Linked DNA regions of Homo sapiens: region 1 is linked to region 2. Evidence: fine-mapped expression QTL. A gene starts in region 2. The other region holds a variant in brackets. All regions are shown on one strand. Distances are between the middles of the regions.

What was found. PIP is the estimated chance that this variant, and not a neighbour inherited with it, causes the effect.
Region 1: its variant is the best candidate, but not a certain one, in a credible set for the expression of LINC02794 in tibial nerve (GTEx, PIP 0.82).

What each region holds. Positions count from the first base shown.
Region 1 is chr1:48,001,527-48,004,443 of GRCh38, forward strand. No RefSeq gene overlaps it. Among named protein-coding and RNA genes, the nearest start is that of TRABD2B, 5.6 kb to the left of the region's middle. The variant C/T (reference allele first, on the strand shown) is at 1,723.
Region 2 is chr1:48,048,099-48,051,015 of GRCh38, forward strand. It overlaps LINC02794 (long intergenic non-protein coding RNA 2794), which reads left to right and starts at 1,673. Exons shown (of 15, transcript XR_007066073.1): 1 at 1,673-2,715.

The DNA.
Region 1 (2,917 bases), 47 kb before region 2:
AGACCAGCCTGGCCAATATGGTGAAAACCCGTCTCTACTAAAAATACAAATAATTAGCTGGGCGTACTGGCAGGCACCTGCAATCCCAGCTACTCAGGAGGCTGAGCAGGAGAACCTCTTGAACCCGGGAGGCGTAGGTTGCAGTGAGCCGAAATCACGCCACTGTACTCCAACCTGGGTGACAGAGAGAGACTCTGTCTCAAAAAAAAAAAAATTAAAAAAAAAAGAACCAGAAAAAGTGCAGAAACTAATTCAGAAAAGGGCATTTTCTCCTGGCAATGGGAAAATAGACACATAGTCACAAAAGTGCAACAAAGGATTAAAATTGCCATATAATATGGCATTCATTAAAAACAAAACCCCTACGTGGGCCTGCCCAGTGGGGGAGTAGAGAGTACATAGGAATCAGTCCAGGGTTTTGTTCCTAGGGAGCTTGCAATCCAGTGAGGAAGACAGAGATGCAAACAAACAGGGGGCTTTGGGAAACAAATAGAGGGGACAAAAGGAGCAACGAAGTCAGCCTTAGGAGAAAGGAGATCAGCAAAGGTCTTTGCTGAGAAGGTCATGTTTCAGTTGATTTTTAAAGATGAGCAGGAGTTGGACAGGGAATAGGAAGAAGGGAAGGTCAGGCAGTGGGAACTGAATGTGCTAAGACATGGGACTGCAATTGCTTGGCACATACAGGGATTGTCAACAATGAAGGCGGAGAGGAGAGGCAGAATGGAGGAGAACTACTGGGGAGACTCAGAAATCAGACTGTACCAGGAAGGACTATGCATTATCTTGGAAATCCCTTCATCCTGCCATTCAGAGGAGATAATCCCCTGAGCTTGCTCTGCATAAATTGTGGGTGCTGGTTGAGGGTGGCTGACCTGCCAGGTACCAGACGGGCTGTGTGCAGCCTCAGGGATATAATAGCAATGAGAGGCATTGGCTGTGTTAACTCACAAATATTTACTGGGTCCCCATATGAATTGTGGTGTCTTAGGCAGGAAGGAATATAGTCCTGCCCTCTGGATACTTGCCATTTCTGAACAAGACAAAACATGGGTAGGTGGTAAGTTAAGATGCATTTATGTGAATAGTGCTGCGATGAATATGGTAGGTATAGATATCTCTGGATCATGCTGTTTTCATTTCCTATAGATATATACCCAGAAGTGGGATTGCTGGATCAAATGGTAGTCCTATTTCTAATTTTTTGAAGAGCATTCATTCTGTTTTTCATAATGGCTTTACCAATTTACATTCTTACCGACAGTATAGACGGACTGGTCAAAAGTATAAATTTTCAGTTATATGATGAATAAGTTCTGGGAATCTAATATACAGCAAGTGTGGTGACGGATGTGTTTTTTACTTTGATTTTAATAATCATTACATAATATATACATATATTAAATTATCACTTTGTATACCTTGAATATATACAATCTTCTTTTTTTTTTGAGATGGAGTTTCCCTCTTGTTGCTCAGGCTGGAGTGCAGTGGCGCAATCTCGGCTCACTGCAACCTACGCCTCCCAGGTTCAAGCAATTCTCCTGCCTCAGCCTCCTGAGTAGCTGGGATTACAGGTGCCTGCCACCACGCCCAGCTAAGTTTTTGTATTTTTAGTAGAGATGGGGTTCACCATGTTGGCCAGGCTGGTCTCGAACTCATGACCTCAGGTGATCTGCCTGCTTTGGCCTCCCAAAGTACTGAGATTACAGGCATGAGCCACAG[C/T]GCCTGGCCAGACTTTACAATCTTTATTTGTCAATTAAATATTTTTAAAGAGAAAAAGAGTTAGAAATCACCACCCACCCACTCGCATGCATGGAAGGGCCAGGGGAGTGGTGCAGTATTGTAAAAGTCCAGGCAAAGTCAGTGAGCTGAAGACTCTCACCTTCGTATAGAACTACTAAATGATCCTGGCGGAGGCAGGATTTGAATTAGGCTATAAAGGAAAAGTAGGATTTAAATCGATGTAAAGGGCCTTGCTTGCATTCCAGATAATGGGAATGAGGAAAGTGAAAGGGCCAACATGGGGTAGGGAAAAGAAGGTTCTGGTTAGAGTAGAAGGGGTGAATATTGAGATAGCAGGCTGAAGTCGGGACTGGGCTGGGGTGCAGTTTGGCCATGAAGGAGGAAAAGGAGCTGGGGGTTATTGCAGACCAATTCTGTGAAAGACCCTGTATCTAAAGGATTGTAATGATGTTGTGAGACAGATATTTTTATCCCCATTTTAAAGATGAGGAAACTGGGTCTCAGAGGGGAGGCATGACACATTCAAGTCATATAGCTGATAATTAGAAGAACTGGACTGTCTAGCTCTTTCCACTAAAGCATTTGCTTCCTTTAAGACATGAATGGGAAGGTAGCACAGATAGCACAGGCCAGATGGTATGGCTAGTAAACACACACACACACACACACACACACACCACACACACACTGGGGGGCACATACATACCAAATATGGCAATTCCTGTGCTGTGGCTCCCAATCTAATTAGTGGGATGATTGCCATTTAGGAGACTTTTGCCTTTCACTTTAGCCCAAGCTGTGTGAGGCTCCACTCCTCTATTTGGGATTCAATAGGAGTATGGAAAGGGAAAAAAGAAATGTGATGCTTGAAACAAAATACCCCGTCGAGCTGACCACTAAATAGCACTTAGACCCCAAGTATACACACAGCTGCTTTATGTAATGAAGGCTGTGGACCATGTTCCTGGATATAAAATAACAAACCACATATAAAGTTTTATGTTGCTGTGTAATTAGCACAGATCTGTGAGTGAGCATGCAGGCCCGGGTGAGGGGAGGGGTGCTTAGGCCCCGGGCAATGAGCTGTGGAGGAAAGAGCATGCACGGTGGAGCCCAGAAGACAAGAGTTTGAATTCCTGCTCCACCACTTTGTAGCCCTTTGACCTTGGGCAAG
Region 2 (2,917 bases):
AATAACATTTACAAATTTTGTGCCAGGCATTTTAGAAGACCATGATCCCAGTCTGCTGGAGAGGCAGATACACAAATCCATACCCATAACACAAAGCAGAATGAGCTCAGAACTGTCGGAGCACAGTGGAGCAAGTGATTCATTCTCCCTCAGGGATCTGGGGGCGGCTTCAGAGAGGAGGCAGCGGATGATCTGGGCCTTGAAGGATGCACTGGGGGACAAAGATAGGGCCTGCTTTGTTCAGGGAGAATGAGTCACTTGGGGGCTAGAGACAGGTAGCCAGATACTCATGGGGGGTCCTGAATGGCTGAGGGGTGTGCTCTGTCCTCAGTAGGGCACGGGGAAAATGTGGAGGACCTGGGAAAAGGAAGGTGGCTGGAGGAGGAGGGTGAGCTCGCTCACTCTATCTATGGGAGACTAGAGTGGAGTTTGTTTTATTGATTGAAGTCAAATTCATGTGGTGCATACAGGAAAGGGGTCATTTCAGAGCCCCATCTATAAGTCAGACTGTGAGGCAGGTACTGAATACTTGATCTTTCCTGTTTTAACCCTGACAACAACGCTCCAAAGCAGGAATGGGAATTCAGCTTTCGACAGGAGGAAACAGGCTCGATGGTGAAGTACTGTGTCCCAGGTTACACAGTCAGAAGGTGGCGGAGCTAGAAGTGCACCCCCATCCCCACCGCCCATGGGGTGCCCACCTCCAGAGCTGTGACCCTTTTACAGGCCGCTCTGGCTGCTTGGTACCCAGCCCTCCCTGGACCCTGAGGCAGATATTTTCCACTGGACCCAGCACCCGTGTCCAAGGGCTTGGTCCAAGACATTTCCCGCTGGCCTCTGGTGATGCTGGGGTGTGGAGAGGAGTGAGTGCTCGAGGGGAGAGGAAGTGCCTTCCATCTCTCCTGTCATGGGACACCCTCCAAGAATGGGCACCAGGCTCCCCACTGCCCCGGGTGGGGATAAACTCTTGAACTCTCTGCAGAGATAAAAAGCACTATCTTCTCCCAGCCCTGAGTGTTAGCAGATGGGGCCGCTAGGGCCAACCTCCAGCTGCCTCCACCCACACTGTGAGGAAAAGCTGTCTGAGGAGGGCAGGAGGGGCTGGTCCCTCAGACTCTGCCTCCATCCGGAGCTGCGCGAGCACGGCCATTCAGCACAGCCCCTGCCCAGCAGGGAGGACCCAGAGGTGAGCGTGCAAGGATCTGAGATGAGTGTTCACATCCTAGTTCTGCTACTTTTCTGAAATGGGCAGAAGATGGGCAAATTACTTCTGTGAGCCTTAGCTTCTCATCAGTAAAAGGGAGCTGATAACTCCTTCTAGGTGCTAAATGATATTATTCTTATAAAAGTGCCTAAATGAGTGTCTGGTGCATAGCACGCCCTTTGCAAGCAGATCATCTTCACAGTGTTGGGATGCAGTGAAGTCAGACTGTCCAGGTCCAAGTGCATCTGCACCTCCAGCTGTGTGACTTTGGGGAAGTTCACTTCAACTTGGGGCCTTGGTCTCCTCTTCTATAAAATGAGCGTTGTTGAGAGGGTGATGATGAGTTCACATAAAGCATCTAGGATAGTGCCTGCCATGATGGCAAACACTATGGAAGAATCAATTATTTATTATCAGCATAAGTCTGTGGTCTACCTTCTGACTGCTGAAGCCCCAGTGTCTTTTGCTTTCTTTCTCTTCCCCTGGGCAAACTTTCTCTCTCACATTCACATCCTCTCTTATGTCTCCGGAGGAAGGATGCTCTGTGGCTCCCTTAGCAGCAAATGTGGAGGAATTTGAGGCTGATGGGGACACAGCCTTTCTGGCCCAGCTTAGTTGAGACCATGAAGGCTGCCTCCTACTCCCTCTGTCCCATGCTGGAGAATGGAACATTCTATTCCTGATCCTGCAGACAAAATGTCGTTATGGTGATTCATGGACTCAGAATTCCAGAAAGTCCAGGCTGAAAGGGGCCTCAGAGGGCATCCTCCCTACTCCATGGCCTTGCCCTTGTCTCTCCACCTCCCCGATAGAAGGCACTAGATCTCAATATAAGCCCCAGGGCAGCAAGACTGATCTAGCTTCCCCATTATTCCGCTTGGGAATAATGCCCAAGGACCACTAGGCCTGAGTCTCACAGCTCCAGGCCTGGAAAGGAGCCTACTTGTCCCGTCACAGATCACAACTGGGCGGGCCAGCTCTGAGCCTTTGCTATTTGAAGGGATGTTTTGATAACCTCTTACCGCTCCTCCCCAACCCTGCAAAGCCCCACCTGATCACCCCACACTCTGGGCCTCCTCTTATCTCCTTACTCTAAGCTCCCCATCCATTACTGTCGGCTGGCAACACAAGTTTTATCTGAGCCTCTGTGGAATGGAATTGATTTCTGTGAATAATTGGAATAGCTGGCTAGTGACCCAGTATTGCTGCCACCAGGGTAGTTGGAGCTTCAAAGCTCTCATCCAACTCTGCCTCTCTCTCTCCATTCCCGTGGCTGTTGTCTGGTCCAAACCATCCTGACCTTCTGCTTGGATCATGATTACAGCTTCCTAACTGCGCTGCCTCTTTCTGATTACCCTGCACCCCATCATCCACTCCAATCTGTCCTCTACATAGCGGCTAAATAGATCTTTAAAAGCTCAAACCTGCCTAGACAGTAACGCCTTTCTACCTTGGCCTGCCATTTAGGGGTCTTTCTGATGGAATTCCAGCTTAACTTTCCAGCCTTACAGGTAAAAATTCACCTTCGTGTTCCCTAAGCATCAGTCAAAGGAGGCCTTTGCCCAATCCACTCCCTCAGGTGTATTCATTCATTCTGCCAACCACTGTTGAGCACCTACCTTGTCCAGTGCCTCCATGGGGCACTAAGAATACAGACAGGGATTAGGTGTAGACCTTGTCCTTAGGCAACATGTGGATTTGTGGGAGATGCAG